7 linked regions of the Homo sapiens genome follow. The protein of the gene in region 1 purifies or fractionates together with the protein of each later gene. This does not show direct contact. Each region holds a gene or a part of one and is shown in the gene's direction. Other genes may lie near its edges. The genes, in order: ENPP7, SLC25A15, ERGIC2, POGLUT3, NAAA, POGLUT2 and TTC17.

What was found.
Region 2: the proteins of ENPP7 (region 1) and SLC25A15 purify together in Homo sapiens (affinity purification with mass spectrometry; one large-scale study listed by BioGRID and IntAct). This does not show direct contact.
Region 3: the proteins of ENPP7 (region 1) and ERGIC2 purify together in Homo sapiens (affinity purification with mass spectrometry; 2 studies listed by BioGRID and IntAct, with this or other methods). This does not show direct contact.
Region 4: the proteins of ENPP7 (region 1) and POGLUT3 purify together in Homo sapiens (affinity purification with mass spectrometry; one large-scale study listed by BioGRID and IntAct). This does not show direct contact.
Region 5: the proteins of ENPP7 (region 1) and NAAA purify together in Homo sapiens (affinity purification with mass spectrometry; one large-scale study listed by BioGRID and IntAct). This does not show direct contact.
Region 6: the proteins of ENPP7 (region 1) and POGLUT2 purify together in Homo sapiens (affinity purification with mass spectrometry; one large-scale study listed by BioGRID and IntAct). This does not show direct contact.
Region 7: the proteins of ENPP7 (region 1) and TTC17 purify together in Homo sapiens (affinity purification with mass spectrometry; one large-scale study listed by BioGRID and IntAct). This does not show direct contact.

What each region holds. Positions count from the first base shown.
Region 1 is NC_000017.11:79,733,943-79,737,442, forward strand, and holds part of ENPP7 (ectonucleotide pyrophosphatase/phosphodiesterase family member 7 precursor), read left to right. Parts: intron 1-1,100; coding exon 1,101-1,727; intron 1,728-3,098; coding exon 3,099-3,318; intron 3,319-3,500. UniProt on the Homo sapiens protein: Choline-specific phosphodiesterase that hydrolyzes sphingomyelin releasing the ceramide and phosphocholine and therefore is involved in sphingomyelin digestion, ceramide formation, and fatty acid (FA) absorption in the gastrointestinal tract.
Region 2 is NC_000013.11:40,803,111-40,806,610, forward strand, and holds part of SLC25A15 (mitochondrial ornithine transporter 1), read left to right. Parts: intron 1-2,007; coding exon 2,008-2,145; intron 2,146-3,500.
Region 3 is NC_000012.12:29,343,173-29,346,672, reverse strand, and holds part of ERGIC2 (endoplasmic reticulum-Golgi intermediate compartment protein 2), read left to right. Parts: intron 1-1,132; coding exon 1,133-1,230; intron 1,231-3,390; coding exon 3,391-3,500. UniProt on the Homo sapiens protein: Possible role in transport between endoplasmic reticulum and Golgi.
Region 4 is NC_000011.10:108,474,385-108,477,884, reverse strand, and holds part of POGLUT3 (protein O-glucosyltransferase 3 isoform 1 precursor), read left to right. Parts: intron 1-173; coding exon 174-278; intron 279-2,932; coding exon 2,933-3,058; 3' UTR 3,059-3,500. UniProt on the Homo sapiens protein: Protein glucosyltransferase that catalyzes the transfer of glucose from UDP-glucose to a serine residue within the consensus sequence peptide C-X-N-T-X-G-S-F-X-C. Can also catalyze the transfer of xylose from UDP-xylose but less efficiently.
Region 5 is NC_000004.12:75,920,514-75,924,013, reverse strand, and holds part of NAAA (N-acylethanolamine-hydrolyzing acid amidase isoform 1 precursor), read left to right. Parts: intron 1-2,890; coding exon 2,891-3,063; intron 3,064-3,213; coding exon 3,214-3,276; intron 3,277-3,500.
Region 6 is NC_000013.11:102,786,379-102,788,976, reverse strand, and holds part of POGLUT2 (protein O-glucosyltransferase 2 isoform 1 precursor), read left to right. Parts: intron 1-1,053; coding exon 1,054-1,143; intron 1,144-2,598. UniProt on the Homo sapiens protein: Protein glucosyltransferase that catalyzes the transfer of glucose from UDP-glucose to a serine residue within the consensus sequence peptide C-X-N-T-X-G-S-F-X-C. Can also catalyze the transfer of xylose from UDP-xylose but less efficiently.
Region 7 is NC_000011.10:43,396,920-43,400,419, forward strand, and holds part of TTC17 (tetratricopeptide repeat protein 17 isoform 1 precursor), read left to right. Parts: intron 1-427; coding exon 428-572; intron 573-1,054; coding exon 1,055-1,194; intron 1,195-2,968; coding exon 2,969-3,129; intron 3,130-3,500. UniProt on the Homo sapiens protein: Plays a role in primary ciliogenesis by modulating actin polymerization.

The sequences.
Region 1 (3,500 bases):
GTCGGAGGGAGAACTGCACCCTTGGGCCCTGCAGCATTGGGGGTGAGGGTCGGACAGGGAAGATCACTGTGACTCAACAAGAAAGCATTTAACAATTAGACGACTTTCTCCCTTTCCACATCCCTGTCACAGCTGAACAGCTAAATTCTAAAGGGCCAAAGACAAAATGAGAGGTGGGTTACAGTATTGACCCAGGAACCCCCCCACCCACCCCCAGTTTGCAATGCTCTGGGGGCTTCCTGGCCCAGAGGCGAGGCTTCCAGTAAACAAAGTCAGTGGAGGTTTCCAAGATGACGCTGGAATAAATGTCAGAGCCCATGCCCACCCCAGAGCCAAGTTATCCACTCAAGCCGGGGTTCCCTCACTCCAGAAGGATCATAGACACACTCAGGGCTCCTTCCACCGGCTGGTGAGCAGGAAGCCAAGGTAGAGACCCTGGCATCACAAGGCTCTTGATCCAATGAAAGAATATCCTGGGGGAGTGGACGGGCAGGTGGGATGGACAGTGATGAGGCAGACACTGCGTATCTGGGAACATTTTTTTTTTTTTTTTGAGACGGAGTCTCGCTCTGTCGCCCAGGCTGGAGTGCAGTGGCGCCATCTCCGCTCACTGCAAGCTCTGCCTCCCGGGTTTACACTATTCTCCTGCCTCAGCCTCCCAAGTAACTGGGACTACAGGCGCCCGCCACCACGCCTGGCTAATTTTTTTGTATTTTCAGTAGAGACAGGGTTTCACCGTGCTAGCCAGGATGGTCTCCATCTCCTGACCTCGGGATCCACCCGCCTTGGCCTCCCAAAGTGCTGGGATTACAGGCATGACCCACTGCGCCCGGCCTCTGGGAACATCTTTATACTGATGTCTTGTTTAGTGCTCAAGTCCAGTGGGCACCTGTTGTTTCCTCTATAAAATCAGGTTTTACCCCCATAGAACATGAGATCAGGGATGTTTTAGAAATTAAAGGCCCCGCAGCTGCAGCTAGGAGCAGGGATGGGTGGGTGGAACAGAGAAGTAGGCACGTGGGGGACAAATGTGTTCACAGGCATGAGACAAGGGGCAGCCCACTGAGGAGTCCTGTCTTTCACGCTGCCTTGTCTGGCAGGGCCTGAGGGCTGGCTCCTTCTTCTACCCGGGCGGGAACGTCACCTACCAAGGGGTGGCTGTGACGCGGAGCCGGAAAGAAGGCATCGCACACAACTACAAAAATGAGACGGAGTGGAGAGCGAACATCGACACAGTGATGGCGTGGTTCACAGAGGAGGACCTGGATCTGGTCACACTCTACTTCGGGGAGCCGGACTCCACGGGCCACAGGTACGGCCCCGAGTCCCCGGAGAGGAGGGAGATGGTGCGGCAGGTGGACCGGACCGTGGGCTACCTCCGGGAGAGCATCGCGCGCAACCACCTCACAGACCGCCTCAACCTGATCATCACATCCGACCACGGCATGACGACCGTGGACAAACGGGCTGGCGACCTGGTTGAATTCCACAAGTTCCCCAACTTCACCTTCCGGGACATCGAGTTTGAGCTCCTGGACTACGGACCAAACGGGATGCTGCTCCCTAAAGAAGGGAGGCTGGAGAAGGTGTACGATGCCCTCAAGGACGCCCACCCCAAGCTCCACGTCTACAAGAAGGAGGCGTTCCCCGAGGCCTTCCACTACGCCAACAACCCCAGGGTCACACCCCTGCTGATGTACAGCGACCTTGGCTACGTCATCCATGGGGTGAGTCGCCTGCTGGAGGCACCACCTCCAGGGGCTCCCTCCCCAGGCTCTGGGTCTTCTTTTTTTTTTTTTGAGACCAGGGTCTTGCTCTGTTGCCCAGGCTGGAGTGCAATGGCAGGATCTCAGCTCACTGCAGCCTTAAACTCCCAGACTCAAGCGATCCTTCCACCTCAGCCTCCTGAGTAGCTGAGACCACAGGTGCACACCACCATGCCTGGCTAATTTTTGTGTGTGTTTTGTTTTGTTTTGTTTCATTTGAGACAGAGTTTCACTCTTGTCATCCAGGCTGGAGGGTAATGGTGCCATCTTGGCTCGCTGCATCCTCCACCTCCTGGGTTCAAGCGATTCTCCTGCCTCAGCCCTCTGAGGCATTACAGGCGCCTGCCACCATGCCTGACTAATTTTTTGTATTTTTAGTGGAGACAGAGTTTCACCATGTTGGCCAGGCTGGTCTCGAACTTCTGGCCTCAGGCGATCCACCCGCCTCAGCCTCCCAAAGTTATGGGATTCAGGTGTGAGCCACTGTGCCCAGCTGATGTTTGTATTTTTTTGTAGAGACAGGGTTTTGCATGTTGGCCAGGCTGGTCTCAAACTCCTGGGCTGAAGCGATCCTCCTGCCTGGGCCTCCCAAAGTGCTGGAATTACAGGGGTGAGCCACTGCGTCTGGCCTCTCCTTCCATCTCCATAGAGGCACTTCCTGTTTCTAGCTGGTCCCCAGTTTGAGGAGTGTCAGCACCGAAGGGACACTTCCTTCACTATGCGGTAGGGTGTGTGCACATCTGTGTGTGCCCTCCACATTCAGGCACCAGGCAGTGGGAGTGTGTGTGCACGTCTGTATCCATCATGACCAGGCACTGTGTGATAGGCGTGTGTGTGTGTGTGTGTGTGTGTGTGTGTGTGTGTGTGCGTCCTACGTGTCCAGGGTAAAGTGTAGAAGTCCAGCCCCAAGGGTGACATGGAAGAGGTAGGAAAGAGTCAGGAGCCCAACCTCCCCTCAGCAGACAGCACAGGGATGCTGAGCCGGAAGCGAAGCACAGATTAGGGAGCAGACATCCCCGGAAAGGAAGTGACCGATGGGAGGCAGCGTTCAACACCGCACAGGCGGCAGGCCCCGAAGCCTGGAGCTGCCCGCTCCACTCCCATTTACTCAGGGTCTGGTCTCCGTTCATTTAACTGGACCTTCCCTGAACTTCACTCTTTAGGGTGACTGATCTTTGGAGGCTCAGAATTCGGGGAAACTGAGTCTTGGAACCCCTCCAGCCCTCACGTTGGTGCTCCTTCCTAAGGGGGTGTTCATAGGGTGGATAGGGTAGGCGGAGAGGGTCTGTTGCTCCCAGCAAGGACCCAGGACCCTTGCCCGCTCCCCGGCAGAGAATTAACGTCCAGTTCAACAATGGGGAGCACGGCTTTGACAACAAGGACATGGACATGAAGACCATCTTCCGCGCTGTGGGCCCTAGCTTCAGGGCGGGCCTGGAGGTGGAGCCCTTTGAGAGCGTCCACGTGTACGAGCTCATGTGCCGGCTGCTGGGCATCGTGCCCGAGGCCAACGATGGGCACCTAGCTACTCTGCTGCCCATGCTGCACACAGGTGAGGGCAGGGTGCCCCAAATCCCCGCCTGCTCTGGTGTGTACACGTGTGCACACGAGGGTGCCTGCATGCCTGTGACCAGGACACCCTTGAGCCCCAAGTGGGGCCACCTCCCCTGGCTTTGGAGAACACCAGAATCTCTCACATTCCCACAACACGTGACCTCTCACGAGCACCTCATG
Region 2 (3,500 bases), on another chromosome or scaffold:
CACAACACTCTTCTAGGGCTGGAAGGGATCTTCTATCCCAACTCCCATGAACCAGGAACTCGCAGAGAAGCCTTTCTTCTGAAACACTTCTCAGACTTTTCCCCGTATTCGTTTTTTTTTTTTTGAAAGAGTCTCACTGTGTCACCCAGGCTGGAGTGCAGTGGCATGATCTTGGCTCACTGCAACCTCTGCCTCCCTGGTTCAAGCGCTTCTTGTGCCTCAGCCACCAGAGTAGCTGGGATTACAGGCGTGCACCACCAGGCATGGCTAATTTTTAGTAGAGACGGGGTTTTGCCATGTTGGCCAGGCCTCAACTGATCTGCCTGCCTTGGCCTCCCAAAGTGCTGGAATTACAGGTATGAGCCACCACGCCTGGCCTCCCCATATTCTTGAACTCTTACTGGATTCCAGTTTCACAACCCTGCTGGTGACATTTGGCTGCTGGTACTAAATCCATACATGAGGTGAATGCTTCTGTTTTGTATTTGTGCATTCATCCCTCTGCCTAGTTTAGATTTCCAGTTTAGCAATTTCACCTAATACCATTGAGCTTGCAGACTTGTACTGGCTTCACCCACTCCTGTGGCACCATTTTACCCTCGTCTGTGTTGCTGAGGTGGTAGGTCACCAGTTGAACTGGAAAATCTTTTTGTGATGCAGCAACTTTTGGTTAAACGTTTTTTCTGGGTTTTCATCTGTGGCAGTTACATTGCACATCTGGTTGCTCCAGGTTGGATTGTGGGCATGTGGGGATAGGCTTAGAACCTAGATTTATTTAAAACTTAGGGCAGACACACTGAAGTATTAATAGTGCATGTTTTTCAGTGGGGGACTATGGGCAATATTTTCCTCCTTTCCTTTAGGTTTTTTTGTGGCGTTTTATTTTGTCATGTCACGATGTATCTTGGCTTTGGCTGTTGTAACAGAATACTACAGATTGAGTGGCTTAAACAAACATTTCTCACAGTTCTATGGTCTGAAAAGTCTAATATCAAGGTTCCAGCAGATCTGGTGTCTGATGAGGGCTTGTTCTTAATTTGAACATAGCCGTCTTCTCACTGTGTCCTCATATGGCAGAGAGTGAGCGAGCTCTCTGGCCTCTTCTTCTAAGGGACTAATCCCATCACAATGGCCCTATCCTCATGACCTCATCTACACCTGATTACTCCCAAAGGCCCCATCTCCTAACACCATCACCTTGGGGGGATAAAATTCAGTCCATAGCGCTGTGTGTAATCAAAAGAATATGGTTGTTGCAGTCAGGAAGACCTGGGTTCACATCCTAGCACTGCCACTTAGTAGCTGTGTGACTGGCCACATTATGTCATCTCTAAGTGTCACTTCCCATAGGGAACTGGGGTGCTGCTGTCTGCTTCATAGGGTTGTGGGATCCTTAGATGAAACAGCACATGCAAGTTTCCTTCCTTTCATCATTTTTTTTTTTTTTTTGAGACGGAGTCTCACTCTGTTGCCCAGGCTAGAGTACAGTGGCACAATCTCAGGTCACTGCAAGCTCTGCCTCCTGGGTTCACGCCATTCTCCTGCCTCAGCCTCCTGAGTAGCTGGGACTACAGGCACCCACCACTACGCCCGGCTAATTTTTTTTTTTTTTTGTATTTTTAGTAGAGACAGGGTTTCACCATGTTAGCCAGGATGGTCTCGATCTCCTGACTTCGTGATCCGCCCGCCTCGGCCTCCCAGAGTGCTGGGATTACAGTTGTGAGCCACGGCGCCCGGCCCTTTCATCATTTTTTTAGACATGGAGGTCTCTCTTTGTTTCCCAAGCTGGAATGCAGTGGCTGTTCACAGATGCAGTCATAGCACTGTAGCCTAGAACACATGGGCTCAAGTGATCCTCCCACCTCAGTCTCCTAAGTAGCTGTAATCACAGGTTCATGCCCTCACGCCCGGCTCCTTACCCTGCTTTATCACCAAAGTGCTGTCTGTGTGGTGAGTGCCAAAGGAATGAAGAAACTGAGGGGTAACTGTCTGCTTGTGTGCTTTCAGTGATCTGCAGAATGCAGCCGCCGGTTCCTTCGCCTCTGCCTTTGCTGCACTGGTGCTCTGCCCCACGGAGCTCGTGAAGTGCCGGCTGCAGACCATGTATGAGATGGAGACATCAGGGAAGATAGCCAAGAGCCAGAAGTAAGCACCACTTGGGCACAAACGTCAGGTCTCTATTGCCCTAGTGTATTGGATGATTTTTCATTTTACATTGTACTAAAGTGGCAGATGTGGAAGCCAATTTATCTACTCCAAAATATTGTTTCTAGAATGCTTTCCCCTATCAGAGATTTTCTGAAAGGATTGGCTGTGATGGGACCCACCACCCACTGCATAAAAAGTCTTAGACAGATATTTAATACCCCAGAACTGGAGAAGCCAGGAGCTTAACACCCTTTTTGGCCTCTTGGAAACATAAGGCATGATCTTCAGCCATTTTTGGAGGTACATAATGGGTGGCTTTTGAACTTTGCCTTAGACCTGAGCCTTCATAAGTGCCAATTTGGATTCTGAGATGAATATTTGATCCCCACTTCAGGTTTCGTATGGGTATTCAGGCTGATTGACCCAGATCCTAGAGGTAACTATTCTTACCCCACTTATCCCCAGTCCTTCAAGTGTACCTGCAGATGGCCCAAGTTCTGAGAACATTAATCAATACTTTTATAAGCATAGCTACTCTTCAGTGATTAAATCACTCTCTAGCTCACTCTTGAAAACACATTCTCATTATCCTTTGAGAGTACTGTTTCATACACAATTTGATTTACTTGAATTGGAAAGCAATTTATTATCCTTATTAATTGCAAAACTTGCTTACTTATCTTGACATCTGGCTGAGTTCTGACCAAGGATATTGCTGTGGTTAACTCAAAGCCTATAAATCTGCTGGGAAAAAGCAGTAGATAAATTGACCATTTTCAAGGATCAGTCCCCACTCAGTGAGAATGGGGTTTGGAAAAGTGCCCTATTTTCTGCACCCTTGAGATTCATTACAGCCAACTTGAATCTAATATTCATTGCCTAGAAGTCCAAGAGTGTAAGTCTTTAAAACTTTTTATTGAAATAATACACATAGTATCATGAATGCACATTGAAGTCACAGTATGCAGCTCTATAAATAGTGACACAATTTATGTGCCTTTGTAACCTGTGTCCAGATTAACAAATAGAACATTAACAACACCCAGAAAGCTGCCCTCATGTTCCTTGGAAGTAATTCAAGGTAATTAAAAGATAGTAATAGTTATATCCAAAGGACTTAGGCAGATCAACACCTTGAATTATCAGTTGACTTTGTATTTGAGGTCTAGCAGTGTTCACACAAGGCATGGTATGGTAGCTTGGGGCTAAGACTCGGATTGGAAGGGAGGTTAATTGTGTTGAGCTGGATTACTTTGTTACATTCCATGTAGCAGTGCTGCAGGAAGGGCTGGCTGATGGGGAATACCTGACAGTGTCTTCTGAAGCTCTCAGAAGGAAAATAGTTTTTAAAT
Region 3 (3,500 bases), on another chromosome or scaffold:
GTAGTTTCTTTAGTTTTCTTCCTACTGTAATATCAGTTCCTTGTATTTATTCAAAGGCTAGCTAATTTGATTTTGGTTTAGTGTATATCTTAAGATATTAGTAGAAACTGAAAATATGTCTTGTGGTGGTTATTCTCTTATAATTTTATTTTATTCTTAGTTTCTGTACTATAAAGAAATGCTGGCTGGGTGCAGTGGCTCACACCTATAATCCCAGCGCTTTGGGAGACTGAGGCAGGAGGATCACTTGAGCCCAGGAGTTTGAGACCAGCCTGGGCGACATGGCAAAACCCTGTCTCTACTAAAAATGAAAAAAATTTAGTTGGGCTTGGTGGCGTGCATTGTAGTCCCAGCTACGCAGGAGGCTGAGGCGGGAGGATTGCTGGAGCCCAGGAAGTCAAGGCTGCAGTGAGCCGTGATTGCGCCACTGCACTCCAGCCTGGGCGATGGAGTGAGACCCTATCTCAAAAAAAAAAAAAGGAAAAAGAAAAATGCTACTTTTCCATAATTGATAAAAGGATGTTAACGATTTTAAGGAATATTTAACTAAGTCACCAATTCATTTTTTTAAACATCTGTGTTGCCCATCTTATGCTTGCTGAGAACTTGTTTTACCGAGTATAAATATGTTGCTTTCATTGGTTCTTTTAAAAATTTTTTTTGTTAGACATTAAGTTGTATGTAACATTACATTTCAGATTAAATGTTTTTATTTTTTATTTGTTTGAGACAGGTTCTTGCTCTGTTGCCCAGGCTGGAGTGCAGTAGCACAATCATGGCTCACTGCAGCCTTGACTTCCTGGGCTCATATGATCCTCCTGCCTCAGCCTCCTGAACAGCTGGGACCCACAGGTGCATACCACCATGCCCAGTTAATTTTTAAATTTTTTGTAGAGACAGGGTCTGGCTCTCTTGACCAGACTGGTCGCGAACTCCCAGACTCAAGTTCGAGACTGTTCTTGAACTCCCACACTCAAGCAGTCCTCCTTCGTCAGCCTCCCAAAGTGCTGAGATTACAGGTGTGAGCCACCACATCCAGCTAAATTTCAGGTTAAATGTGTTTAATAGAAGAATATATTTGGCAGTAGTTTTGTTGCTACTGAATTGATAAAAAGTTTTTTTTGTATTCTAGACAACCAGATGTTCCAATATTTTATTACAGTTGTGCCAACAAAACTACATACATATAAAATATCAGCAGACACCCATCAGTTTTCTGTGACAGAAAGGGTAAGTTGAATCCAACCGGTAAAATAATTTGGTGATTTTTTTAAAAAAGCATTTTAAAGTTTCCTGGCTACAAAATAAGGTGGTGTTTTACTTGGTGTCTTCCCTCATTTAAAAATCTGTGGAAGTTTTGAAATGAATTAACATTTTATTTTAAATCAGAAATATGTCAGAAATGAATATTAGTATATTCTAAAGCAATAAAAGTAGATATTTAAAAAATCTGAAAGGTTTTCTATTGCATTAAGACTTAAAATTGTTAAATTGTGATGGCCTTAATTATTTTATTCTTAATGTCTTAATTTTATAAATGTTTTCTCATAAATTGATATAAGCAGTTCTTGATCTGGCAGCAGATTCTTTGAATTCTGTTACTTATTTATTAATAAATGTACTACCTTCTCTGGGCATACATGGTTATCATGGATTAGATAGCAAATTTAGAGGGTTTGCCTTCCTAAATTAATGCTTTGTATTCATCTGATTGTGATGAAGAACATTCCACTACCTCAGGGTGGTATGGCCATATAAGTAAATACTGACAGTGATGAGCAAAGTTTTGGAATTGGACAGTTTAATAGATTTCTTATCTACTTTGGGGTCATGTTTTCTTATTTTTGTGTTTGAATGGTGAATTCAAACACTTGTATCCAGAAGAATTCTAAGGCAAAATTTAAGTGCTTTAAAAATTTTGCTTTCCTTTATATAGTGTTTTCTTTTACTAGCCTTATAACTCATGATGACCATGCCCTCAATAATTGTGGAATTTTTTTTTTTGTTCTTATGAGATTAGGTATTGGAGTTTTTAGGGGTGAAGTGTCATGTGTCTATAGCTTTTCACTTGGCTTGGGAGAAAGTACAAGTTCATATAACTGCATATATATGTATAGGTATGTGTGTATATACACTCACACAAAGAAACTAGGTAAAGTTTATACCAGAACATATTGTGCTTTTCAACATTTCTTTAAGGAGTAGGGAGATTCCATTTCTCACCTGTAAGATTGGCAAACACCTCAAGGCAATACATACAGTTGAGAAGACTTTGGGGAAAATAGGCAAACATGCAGTGCTATGGGGATGCAAAGTGGCATAATCTTTGAGGAAGGTAGTTTAGCAGTATCTGCAAAAGGACCTATGCATTTATCCTTTGACTCAGCAATTGCACTTCGAGAAAGCTATTCCAAAGATACGGTGGGCAAAAATATAAAAATGTGTGTTTCAGGCTATTCGTTGCATTGTTATCTGTAATAGTAGAAGATTAGAAACAACCCAGATGGTACATCTACACACACTGGAGGAAGATGCAATTGTTAAAAATCAAATGAGAAGGATTTCTATATACTGATAGGAAAATATCTCCAGGGTATATTTTTAAAATAACAAAGCCAAAAATACATATGTAATAGAATCCCAGGGCATTTGACTGTTGAAGGATGTGTTTATACTGATAGGGTGACTAAAATAGTTTTTTAACTTAAAAAAGAATGGAGTAACTGGGGTTGGTAAAATGCAGGATAGGGGGTGGGAGGGAGAGGGCTGACATTCATTAGTCCTGGAACCCAAAGTGAATCATTATTAGTCTTTCATTATGTATATGCCCTGATCCCTAAAACAGTTTCTACCCTTATAGGTAGTGACAATATATTTATAACTCAGCATGATATTGAGCATTTTAGAGCTTTAAGATGTAGTCACTTTATTGGAAACTTGATCAGTTGGCTTATAAGGCTGTATTGTGCTAGTAATAGGGAAAGAGTTTTGTAATGCCCTACGTAAAACTGTTTTAATTTCCCTTGGTAGTAGTTAACCTCATTATTTGTATTCCTAAAGCTTGCAGTTTAGTTATAGCATGAGGAACATGCCATACATATTTGTAAGCTCTTGAGCTCAGTAGAAAACTTGTATCTAAGGTGACCTTTTTGAGAAAAAAAGAATGATTCTGCTCTTTTGATAGTTTCAAAAGCTAACCACACAAAGAATACAAAATAATTTGTCTCTGAAGAGCTTAGTCTAGTAGGACAGTTCATAAGGAAATGTGGATGTCCTTCTTTTACAGTAGGGCTTCAGGGCTTAATATTGAATGTATGTAAGTAACCAGATGACATGAATTCTGTTTCTCTCTTCCTCCTATTTCTCCCCTTCCTTTTGCCTCCCTTTTAGGAACGTATCATTAACCATGCTGCAGGCAGCCATGGAGTCTCTGGGATATTTATGAAATATGATCTCAGTTCTCTTATGGTGACAGTTACTGAGGAGCACATGCCATTCTG
Region 4 (3,500 bases), on another chromosome or scaffold:
GAGCCACCATGTCCGGCCCCTGTAGCCTCATTCTTAAGTTATAATTCCATTATGTTCTGGCTTTCCCATGCTGTTCACTTTCAACCCCACATCTGTCCCACCTCACACTTAACCCTCTCTTTGTGGGTCGCAGTAGTAATTTTCATTCATTTTTATTTTTTTTAACCTTTCAGGAAAATGATGAAGAAGCCAAGAAGATTGCAAAAGAAGGACAGTTGATGGCTAGGGACCTACTACAGCCACACAGGCTTTACTGCTACTATTACCAAGTACTGCAGGTCAGTTCAGAGTGTCCGTCCACACTGCTGGGTCGGGTGTCCTCAGACTACCCGCTTGGCCTGTACACTTCCTGCCTGGCTTCCTGAAGGACTCACAGTCAAGCCTATGGACCACTGGCTAAGCCAAGGCACTTGCCTAGGGAAAGATAGTGCTAAGTCTTCATTTGGTGGCCCCCTTTTTTTTGTTTTTTGTTTGTTTGTTTGTTTTGAGATGAAGTCTCACTCTGTCATGCAGGCTGGAGTGCAGTGTCTCAATCTCAGCTCACTGCAGCCTCTGCCTTCCAGGTTCAAGCAATTCTGCCTCAGACTCCCAAGTAGCTGGGATTACAGGTACACGCCACCATGCCCAGCTAATTTTTGTATTTTTAGTAGAAACGGAGTTTCGCCATGTTGGCCAGGCTGGTCTTGAACTCCTGGCCTCAGGTGATCTGCCTTGCCTTGGCCTCCTGAAGTGCTGGGATACAGGTGTGAGCCACCACGCCCAGCCGTGGCCTCCATATTTTCATCTTTATTCCATATTATGTAAAACGACGCTGGGAGCCCTCACAAATATAGATTAGCAACTCCTCCCATCTTCTCAGTGCTCTCTTTTATTAAATGCTTTATTGAATTCCTAGTGTAGGTGTTCTGGAACCTCAGAGAAAAACATTTTTTCTTATTTGGAAAACAAGATGGTTGGACTGGAGATCATTAACATCCCTTTTTACTCAAAATGTCGCCTCCTTATTCTCCTTGATACTTAAGATTCATGCCTTTTATAGTACAAGGCAGAATGCAAATATTTAGCTTGCTGTAGCAAACAAACTAATGAGAAATATGTATAACAGTTCTAACACCTTAGGGCTGAATCCTGAAGTATAGTGTTTATTGGGAATCCGAGGATTGGTCTTTTGAGTAACTACCTTGAGTTTTACTCAGAAAAATCTAGACAGGAAGAATAAAAAAAGGAAATTATGTTCTTGTTTTTAACCTAAATTTATTTTTCTGTAGGCATAGTAAAAGTAAATTTCCCTAGATGCTTGTGGATACTACCCTCTCATATTTTCATTTTCATAGAAAAATAAAAATGATAAGTTACACTATTTACTAGAAGCAGCCCTTCCTTCCCTTAAATTGGTCTGTCCCCTCTGTTGGTCTAGCTTTAATCGTTAAACAGTTTTTTTAACAATTTCTTGGCCGGGTGCAGTGGCTCACACCTGTAATCCCAGCACTTTGGGAGGTCGAGGAGGGTGGATCACCTGAGGTCAGGAGTTCAAGACCAGCCTGGCCATCATGGTCAAACCCCGTCTCTACTAAAAATACAAAATTAGCCAGGTGTGGTGGCACATGCCTGTAATCTCAACTACTCAGGAGGCTGAGGCAGGAGAATCGCTTGAACCTGGGAGGCAGAGGTTGCAGTGAGCCTAGATTGCACCACTGCACTCCAGCCTGGGCAACAAGAGCAAAATGCATCTAAAAATATATATATTTCTTACTCGGTCACCTAGGCTGGAGTGCAGTGGCATGATCACAGCTTACTGCAGCCTCAACCTCCTAGGATCAAGCGATTCTTCCCCCCTCCCACCTCAGCCTCCCACTAGTAGCTGGGACTACACCACCACACTCAGCTAATTTATTTATTTTTTTTAGAAACAAGCTCTTGCCGTGTTTCCCTGGTTCCTCAAGTGATTCTCCAGCCTCAGCCTCCCAAATAGTTTCAATTTTAATGTTAGGAATTTCTCTCTCTAAAATATTAATTAGGCTTATCTACTGTGTCAACATTTTGTTGCATTTGGTCCAGTACCAGGAATATACAGCAAAAGGGACATGGAATCATTGAATTGAAATATCCAATTTATGTCTGGGCAGGGTGGCTCATGCCTGTAGTCCCAGCACTTTGGGAGGCTGAGGTAGGCAGATTGCTTGAGTCCAGGAGTTGAAGACCAGGCTGTGCAACATGGTGAAACGCCATCTCTACAAAAAATGAAAAAAATTAGCTGGGCATGGTGGTACGCGCCTGTAGTCCCAGCTACTTAGGAGACTGAGGTGTAAGGATCACTTGAGCCTAGGATGTTGGAGGCTGCAGTGAGCCAAGATCACGCCACTGCACTCCAGCCTCAGTGACAGAGTAAGACCGTGTCTCAAAAAAAAAAAAAAACAAAAACAAAAAAAACTCCATTTATAGAAATATTTCACTCAGGGCCACAGTGGAGGAACATTACACAGACCTGTTGCCATTCAAAAATGCGTGTGACTATAGGCCTAAAAGAAAGAATGTGTGAGACTGCCAACTTTTCAGATGGTTATCTTGTTTGTTTGCTGGCTTGAGTATTCAACAAAGTTAATTATTCAATAACAAGTGGAAAATAAATGCTGAGAGCTGCTGTTTGTTTCAGGTAGGGACGTCTGGCTTGGCATCCCTTTTGTAGAGGCTTCCAACCAACACATAAAATTGTGGATTGGGGTTTCTTGCTAGATTATGAATTATAACTAGTGCCTGTGATAGCTAAAGTTAAAATGTAACTTTAGGACTGGAATAAACCAGACCTTTGGTTTTAGTCTGCAGACACACAGCAACTAGAAAAGATGGCGTGACTGCGGATGGGAGTGGGTGGGGGAGTCAACAGAATGCAGTGTGAACTAACCTTTCAGTTCCCTTTAAACCCACGTTTCAGAAATATGCCGAGCGCCAGTCCAGCAAACCCGAAGTACGTGATGGAATGGAACTTGTTCCTCAGCCAGAAGATAGCACAGCCATCTGCCAGTGCCACAGGAAAAAGCCTTCAAGAGAAGAACTTTGAGTCAGCCCAGAATCACACTCCTGTGTATCCCGGCTACACTTTAAGGAAAGATTGAATCTAAGCTGTGAAGGACAGTATAGAAGACTGCACCAAGTGGACTAGTTCTCCCGGTGGCTTTATATATGTAGATGGATATAGCAGTACTGGTTGAGTATCCCTCATCTGAAATGCTTAGGACCAGGAGTGTTTCAGGCTTCAGATTTTTTAAGATTTGGGAATATTTGCATGTACATAATGAGGTATCTTGGGGATGAGATCCAAGTCTAAACACAAAATTCATTTATATTTTATATATACCTTGTTCACATACCCTGAAGGTAATTTTATATAATATTTTTAATAATTTGTGCATGAAACAAAGTTTGTATACATTGAACTGTCAGAAAGCAAAGGTGTCACTATCTTAGCGACCCAAGTGGTGGTGTCAGCACTCAAAAAGTTT
Region 5 (3,500 bases), on another chromosome or scaffold:
ACTGATTTACATAGGGCAGCAAAGATTGGTTGGACCAGGTGTACCATTTGCATAGGGCATGAAAAGCTGTCTGCCCCCACCCTAATCTTTTATTATGCTGATGGATTCTCTACCTGGCTGGTGCCATGTTGCCTGCTTCTTTACTGTACACATGGTGACAAAGAAAAGGGAAGATGGGCCGGGCGCGGTGGCTCACACCTGTAATCCCAGCACTTTGGGAGGCCGAGGCAGAGAAGTGAGGAGGTCAGGAGTTCGAGACTAGCCTGGCCAACATGGTGAAACCCCATCTCTACTAAAAATACAAAAATTAGTCAGGTGTAGTGGCGGGTGTCTGTAATCCCAGCCCCTTGGGTGGCTGAGGCAGGAGAATCACTTGAATTCAGAAGGCAGAGGTTGCAGTGAGCCGAGATCACACCACTGCACTCCAGCCTGGGAGACACAGCAAGACTCTGTCTCAAAAAAAAAAAAAGAAAAAAGAAGGGAAGATGGAGCCTCCGTTTTGAACATACCTGGCTCCCAGGTAGCCCTTTTCTGTTGGCACAGCTGCTGGCATTCACCCGTGCAAGCTTCCAGCTTGCTTGTCTATGTTTGCAGCTCGATTTTTCAGGCTGCTCTTTGTTAGAAAAGAATAACTTCTTGGGCTACTTTTTGTTAGAAAGGAAGCCTTGCCAAGGACTCTTCTACCCTCACTATCTGCCTAATTTCTTTCTATCTCCTGTATCAAAAAGGTGAAAGTTCTTGATTTGATAAGGAAAGAAAAAAAATCCATATGCTGAGGTTGCTATGTTCTCTGGTAAGGACGAATCTGCTGGGTGTGATGGTGCTCGCCTGCAGTCCCAGACACTCAGGAGGCTGAGGCGGGAGGATCCCTTCTGCCCAGGAGTTCAGGTCCAACAGACAACATTGAGACCCCATGTCTGGAAAGAAGTAAATAAATGAAATAACAAAAGAAACTCTGGGACCTAGACTAAAAAAAAAAAAGGAAGAAGAAAGAAACTCCATGTCTATTAGCAGTCACTGCCCATTTCCTCCATTTCCTGAGATAGATGCATTTGCACTCCCTGACTTTGTCGCCTGGGTAAAATAAGTCACCAGTGCCTTCAGTATTTTTTATGGATGTTCTTTTGCTTTGCTGTCACAGGTTAGAGAAAATGAATTTGATAGTAGTTGGGGGATGGTATAGGCAACATAAGCAAACAAATATTTCATCACTCCTATTACCTCTGCAAAGGCCAAGGGAAAATTTCTTCTTTGCCCTCTGATGGTTCACTGAAAAGTCAACTCACAAAAGGCAGATTAATTGGAGAAAAGGCATACAAATTTATTTAACATGTACATGACATAGGAGTCTTCAGAATGAAGACCCAAAGATACAGGGGACATTGTCCATTTTTATGCTTAGGTTTAACAAAGTATGGAATGCCATGTAGAAATATGATTGAACAAAAAGGTAGATCCAGTGCTAATAGATGGAGTGGGGAAACCCAGCTAGGCCTGTGTGTCTAGATTCTTCTTGGCCTCTCTGACCATACATTCCCTTCTTCCAGGTACAGGGCAGGATCCTCTCTGGAAAGGGGATCATATGACCTACAGTCAAACAAGTTAGGACAGATCATTTCTTTTTTTTTTTTTTTTTGAGACAGGGTCTCACTCTGTCACCCAGGCTGGAGTGCAGTGGCATGATCTCGGCTCACTGCAACCTTCATCTCCTGGGTTCAAGCAATTCTCCCACCTCAGCCTCCCTGCATAGCTAAGTATAAGGCAGGAAAACTCTACAAAGCCCTGCCATGGGTTTTGTAGAGTTTTCTTGCCTTATGGTTATTGCTGTTAAGGTTTATGGTGCTGAATGACGGAGCCTTTGCAGACACCAATACCTTGAATTGTTCTTTTGTTTGACCCTATCACCACCTCCACCCTTGACAATGTGCCCTGGCAATATCCAGGATGGGTGAGCATACAGTGTACTTCCTTTAAAACATGGCAGCAGAGTGGTTGTGAAGGTGGAGACAGGAAGAGCAGGCCCTCCACCGAAGGATATTCTTGAGCAGATCAGCTCTAGGAAGGAGCCCATATGGAATCTGAAGATTTGGGGAGTGATCCCCTTAAGTATCCTTGCCACAGGCCTTTGGAAGTCATCATGCGCCCTCGGGGTGTCTGAACACCAGTTAAGCTCAGGGCGCTAATGTAGCGCATGCTCTTTCATCCCCAAGCCTTTGCCAGTCTAGTCCATCGAACTAGAACCCTCCTCCCCACTGCCACTCCTCACCCTGCAACCACCACTTTCACCACTCACTTGTGTTTGTCTCTTTAGCTTCAATTCATGCGATGCTTCCCAGCAGTACCTCCTCCACTGCCCTTGGTGAGGATGGGACCCCTACTGTGACGTCCATAGCATCTTATTCTCCTATGTGAACTCTCATTACACTGTGTCACCATTGGTTGTTGACTTTTCTGTCTTCCTCAGAGGCTTGGGGAGAATAGGACCAGGCGACTCATTCACTGCTCTATCCCCCACCAGCACAGTGCCTGGCACAGTGTAGATATTCAAGAAAACCCTGTTTAAATAATAAATGAATGAAGAAGCACAAAAAGTCCTTTGTGAGGGCGATCTGCCTGGAGAGCACACAGCCGGTGTTTGCTGAGCCAGGCCTAGGGCTTGTCAACAGTTCTCTCCTCCTGTCAGAATTTCCTGCTGCTCCTGGCTCCGCTTTGAAGCTGAAATTTCTTCCATCTTAGGAGCCCTGATAACAAGAGGATAAGGTCAGAGCAGATCAAGGTGATAGTCATGACATAACATATCAGGAGAATGTGCTTTGGATCATTTTTGCATCATCTGGTGTGGACCCAACTGCAGGTGGGGTTGCTCACGCAAGTTCATCCTTTCGTTCAGACCCTGAGTGAGTCGGAAAACTTCGAAGCAGCTGTTGGCAAGTTGGCCAAGACTCCCCTTATTGCTGATGTTTATTACATTGTTGGTGGCACGTCCCCCCGGGAGGGGGTGGTCATCACGAGGAACAGAGATGGCCCAGCAGACATTTGGCCTCTAGATCCTTTGAATGGAGCGTAAGTAGAATTGAAAGCTCTGGTCATTTTGTATCAGATAATCATTTTTTTTAATCGGTGAAATGAGGGGTATTTTAAATTTGTTCATATGTCTCCTCTGCTATGTCGTAAATTGCCTTGGATAAGACAAGATGATGTGCTCTGTTGTAGGTGGTTCCGAGTTGAGACAAATTACGACCACTGGAAGCCAGCACCCAAGGAAGATGACCGGAGGTAGGCTGCTACGTGCTTTCTGGTTTGCAGTGTTTTCTTATGGTCAGGAGAATATGCCCATTCTGTCACAGGAACTGGCAAGACCTATGGGTGCTATCCTCTCCCAGAAAATGTACCTGAGCCCCTTCGCCAGTGCCTTGGCTGGGAAGGGAGTGTTGTGTGGAGGAGAGCAGTGGGCAGAGCCTCTCAGCAGCTGGGCGGGTGTTGGGAGGCTGTCAGGGTCA
Region 6 (2,598 bases), on another chromosome or scaffold:
GTTTCCCAATATCATGGGTCCTTTTGAAATGTATTGTACCTGGAGAGCATCCAGGATGTTCACGTAATAGACTTTGGCCTGTAAATGGGAAGCTGCCTGCCCATAGATGGCACGGCAGTTCCCCTAGGCTGAACACAGCGGGCACTGCATCTTACATTAACTCTCCACTCTGCATGTGAAACAAAAAGCTAGGCTGGGTGCGGTGGCTCGTGCCTGTAATCCCAGCACTTTGGAAGGCTGAGGCAGGCAGATCACCTGAGGTCAGGAGTTCAAGACCAGCCTGGCTAACATGGTCAAACCCCATCTCTACTAAAAATACAAAAATAAGCTGGCGTGGTGATGGGTGCCTGTAATCCCAGCTACTGGGGAGGCTGAGGCAGGAGAATCACTTGAACCTGGGAGGCGGAGGTTGCAGTGAGCCGAGACCACACCATTGCACTCCAGCCTGGGCAACAAGAGCAAAACTCCGTCTCAAACAACAACAACAAACAACAACAACAACAACAAAAAGCTAAACTGTGGCCTTGATTACACTTTCTCTTTCAAGTAGCGTTGCTCTGAGCCACAAGCATTGCCTCCGCTAGCAATGTGAAAATTGTAAGATGGCCAGTCTGGCAGAAGTCACTAACAGGCTCCAGGTTAAAATGAGGGATTGATTCAGAAGTAGATGCAGCCATAAATACAGAAATAAAGAGGGATGGAATGCAATAAACTTTAAGCTAATTGTCTCCTGAAATTTGTGAAGGCAGCTGGCTAAGCTTCATCTTGCGTTTACAAAGTCATCAGTTTGCTTGGTGTACAACCTTGTCTCTCCAGGAGAGGCTTAGTTCTAGAAGGTCCAATATGACTTTTCAAACTTTTAAGTCTTAGAAACCTCCCTCTGATTTAAACAAACATACTCTGTTAAATGTTCTGTTTTACCATGAGACTACCCCCAAAGATATTATTTCCCACAGTTGCCCCAATGTATACATACTCTGAAGAGCAGTTTGCAGATGCCTGCATGGGAAAAATGGATTCTATTACAGGATTTTGTCGTTGTTCTTCCTGTAGGCCAAAAAGATAGCAAAAGCAGGACAAGAATTTGCAAGAAATAATCTCATGGGCGATGACATATTCTGTTATTATTTCAAACTTTTCCAGGTCAGTATTTTCCAAGAAAATCATCACGTAACTTATAAGTAGACATGTTAAGAACAAATAATATTTTACTTAACAATTTCTAAACATATGTTACTATAGGGAGATATATATACTTCTGTGGATGAAAATCAGAGACAAATATTAAGTAATCATAAAAAAATAGTTGAAAACCAAAGATTAGCTAATGGAAAATGTTACAATATTAAGCGAAAACTATTAATATTAGAACTATGTGATGTCTGACTAAGAAATTGGCCTCTGATCCTACAAAGTTACAGTGCATGGATTTGTATGTTCTCTTTGTGTTACATTGCTGCTGCCTTACCATTTCTTTGTCTAAACAGTGCCAGGTGTGTTTGGGCCTCTTGTCTTGACTCTGTATGAGCCATGACTTCCCTTGGAAATTATTTCCATGGACCTAAGCATTTAGAGATTGTAATCAAGCATATCCGACGATTTAAAGGACTCTTTTAAAAATGTGGTAGTAGGCCGGGTGCGGTGGCTCACACCTGTAATCCCAGCACTTTGGGAGGCTGAGGCAGACAGATCACCTGAGGTGAGGAGTTTGATACCAGCCTGGCCAACATGGTGAAACCCCGTCTCTACTAAAAATACAAAAATTAGCCGGGTGTGGTGGTGCACACCTATAATCCCAGCTATTCGGGAGGCTGAGGCAGGAGAATCACTTGAACCCGGGAGGTGGAAGTTACAGTGAGCCGAGATCGTACCCCTGCACTCCAGCCTGGGTGACAAGAGTGAGATTCTGTCTCAAAAAAATAAACAAACAAAAAAAAAAAAACAAAATCAGGTAGTAAACAAGTTCTTGGCTAATAACAGTACTAGATCTAGAGTAAGAGTTTTATCTCACAGTTGCAGATACTGAGCCCCATATCTGAGGCTCTGCTACAGATCAAAGTTGGTGTATTTCTGGCCTGTACTGGCTCCTCCCGATTTTGTAACCTTCCCTTGATAGAGGGAAGCAGAGGACAAACCGTGTAAAATGAATAAACTGGGGGGATTTACCATGTGAATTTCTAAGGATCCATGGGGCAGTGTTCATTCATTTAGCATAGGTACTTAGCACAGTGCTTCACTCAGAGTAAGCACATGATAAATGAAGATGATGATGGAGGCTTGTGCAAGCCATGATAAGGAAAGCAGAATAGTCTCTGTCTTCACATTCTCAGTCTAGGGAAGATTGTGTGCAAAATTATTTTTACTGTGAGGCAGAAGACGGTTAAAAAAAAAAGTCATGGAAATTTAGGATAGCATAAAGAGGTGTCTGTTAGGAATAGGCAGCCAGTGTTCAAAGGATGGCCTCCTCTCAGATGCTCTACTGTTGATGTTCAGAACTGGTATATATGACGGACTATGCAGATCACAGTTTGACACACATGAGTTAAATGAATCATAGTCTTCATATATTCTAGCCTCTCTCATTGGGTGGATATAAAG
Region 7 (3,500 bases), on another chromosome or scaffold:
TTTTCTCCATCCCTGTTCAAAGAAATAAGTCCCACCACAAAAAAAAAAAAAAAATCACAGATCTCAAAAAGTTCAAAGTGATAATTGTGTAATATACTTTCCATTTCCATTAAGGAAAAAATATGTAGATGCCCTATGATTCACATGATACTTGAATGGAATTATCATAAACTAAGTTTAACTTTTCTTAAAGCAAATATAAGCCCTAAATAAATTGTAAAATCATACAGTGTCTGCAATACCTTATTTTAGTGACAAAATTTGTAGCTATCAGATTAAGAGCCATCAATAATTTAAAAATGAAACACTATGATTATCTTATTTTCTCCACCTATATCTTAGTTTCCTAAGCACAAGTAACTTTGAATGTCATTTTTCCTTGTCAAGTGGTTCTACATAATCATGGAATATGTGCTGCTTTCCTTAGGCACAATAAAGACATTGCCCTGGTCAACCTGGCAAACGTTCTACACAGAGCACACTTCTCTGCTGATGCTGCTGTCGTGGTCCATGCAGCTCTGGATGACAGTGACTTCTTCACCAGCTATTACACTTTGGGGAATATATATGCAGTAAGTACTACTCTTTGTTTCATGAGTCATGCTAGTTGCCACTTTCTTTTTTTTTTTTTTTTCTCCCCCCTCAGTAGAATGTTACTTTTTTCCATTCCTTTTTTGGTCTGAACGATGGAAATGAAATTAGGAGGAAGAAAAATCCTCAACACAGTAATGTAATTATTCTAGCCTCTTGCCAAAAAAACAATAATAATAATTAAATTGGAATTTTAAACTTCTACAGGGTACACCTTTTAAGGTTAGCAATACCTGCCAACTAAACCATCCTATAGTATGCCTTAATATTGTAGGGATCTGGTCACTGATCAAAATAATGGTCACTGTAGAGTAAGAGGTAGGTGTGATCTCATAAATCATTAGAGGATTTGGACAGATGCAACCAGGCCGTGGCTAACATTTTTTTTTCCGTGTGTGTGTGTGTGTGTGTGTGTGTGTGTGTGTGTGTGTGTGTGTGTGTATGTTTGTTTTTGTCTCTTCAGATGCTTGGGGAATATAACCACTCAGTGCTCTGTTATGACCACGCTTTGCAGGCCAGACCTGGGTTTGAGCAAGCTATAAAGAGGAAGCATGCTGTCCTATGTCAGCAAAAACTGGAGCAGAAATTGGAGGCTCAGCATAGGTAATTGAGAGGAAAAATTTCACTCAAGCATTAGCACTATCGAACCTTAGGTTAAATCTGTGTAGGGGATATCAGTGTTAATTTGGTAACTGGAATTAAGAAAGAAACCTCTTCACTACTGCAAGTCCTATCCTTTTTCTGTAAGTCCTGGTGGTTTAGCACAATTCAGTGGTTGTGTAGAGGAATATCTTTAATTGTATGGATTCCTGCAACTAGAGAATATTTGTAGTAAAAGCTGTCACTTAAATGTTTACAATTTTGACCATTGATTACTTTTATGAAGTCAGTTGGGGTGGGGAGACTGGGATACTTAGTTGACTACTTACTTTGTTGACTGCATTTTTATTTGCATAGAATATACTAAGTTTCAGTAAAATCACTTACATGTGCAATAGTTGATATTTCTCCTCTTGGAGAGAGGTGGTGGCTCCTAGGGTTGAGTTATTGTTAAGGTAGTTAAATGGCATTGAGAGACATTATTTGGCCCACGTTTTAATCATGATTGTGTGTTAGGTTGTACAGTAATGGAATTCTATTGTATTTGATCCTTGAGGTATAATAAGTTAAAAAACATTTCCTTCAATCAGTAGGGCTAGTTAAGAAACTTCATGTTAACTCAGAAGTGAATTTTTCATATCTCAGAATTAGCTGTAATATTTGAGTTTACTTTGGTTAGTAGAGAATTAAACAGAGATTTAGAACTCATTAAACTTTTGTATTTGCTTCTTTTCCAATCTTTTTAAGGCATAATGTGGTAGGAAGTAAAAAGGATGCCAGCTTGCTTATTCATAACTGGTTTCTGTTATACCTGGCTGAGCTTTTTCCAGTATCATGCTCTTAATAATTGAGCTGGCTCTATCTTTACACAATCTGTATAGTTCCTAAAATCTCTGTATGTTACAGTGTGTAATAGGCAGTATGGGTTTTCTGATTAAATGTAATCAGGCAGCTGATTTACTGAAATCAGGTGGTGAAGCATATTCCTTTCGAAGCATAGTTTCTGTAGTTTTTCCTGGCCTGTAACCAATAAGCTAGAGTATGAAAGCAAAGTACTGTGGCCCCTAACTCTTAACTTTGTCTTTAAGCAGAATCTAGGGAAAAAGTGAAAAGGAGGAAAGGATTCTAGAAAGACTTTGAATGTTGATGGAACTAATGCAAATTTTGTAGAGAGAAATAGAGTTGTTAAATACATAAACTTGTATATCGTCATGTATTTTTTTATGGCACCTGAAAAATGCAATATACCATTTGATGTCATGATAGTTGTATTGCCAGGTGTCATGGCTGATGCCTGTAATCCCAGTTATTCTGGAGACTGAGGCAGGGTGGAGGGGAGGAATCACTTGATGCCAGGAGTTCAAATCTAGCCTGGGCAACACAGCAAGACCCAGTTTCTAAAACTAAATTAGCCAGGCATGGTGGCGTGTGCCTGTAGTCCCAGATACTCCCCAGGAGACTGAGGCAAGAGGACCCCTTGAGCCCAGGAGTTGAGCCCAAGAGTACAAGGCTGCAGTGAGCTACAATCAGGCCTCTCCATCCAGCCTTGACAACAGAGCAAGACCCCATTTTTTAAAAAAGTTGTATTTAAAGGAAGAATTTCACATTTATCTTTTTGCCCTAGTATTCTTGAACTGGTGATACAGGGTTGTATGTTAAATAAAAGGAAAACACACAGTAATTGTTGCTGAGAACCAGAAAAATCTGTGCATTTAAGTGGGTTTAAAATTTATGATTTTATAGCTCTAACTTTTTCCTGGTATTAAAAAATGTTAAGATCTCTCCAGCGAACACTGAATGAGTTAAAAGAGTATCAAAAGCAGCATGACCACTACCTGAGACAGCAGGAAATCCTAGAAAAACATAAACTGATTCAGGAGGAGCAAATCTTAAGAAATATCATTCATGAGACTCAGATGGCAAAAGAGGCACAATTAGGTAAGTAGTGACTCCAAGTAATTGAAGACAGGTTAGGAAATTCACTTTTAGCATGCTTTACTATCATAACTTTCTTGTAGCCTTAAAGCAGTGTGAAGTTGTGTTTATGACTTCCCTACATCTCGAAAGCATGATTCATCACTGTGGGTATACCAGGAGGCCTGGGGAGCTGGTTTGGTCTACCTTGCTTTTTTCAAATTTACATTTTGAAATAAAAAACAAGTCTTGTAGATCCTAGAAGTCTTAACAGTTATTTGCATTCTGTGTTCAACATCAGTTTTTTTTCCTACCCTAATATGCATATCAGTCTCCTGGAGATCTTGTTGAAATGCAGATTATGATTCAGTAGGTCTGAATTGAGGCCTGAGAGT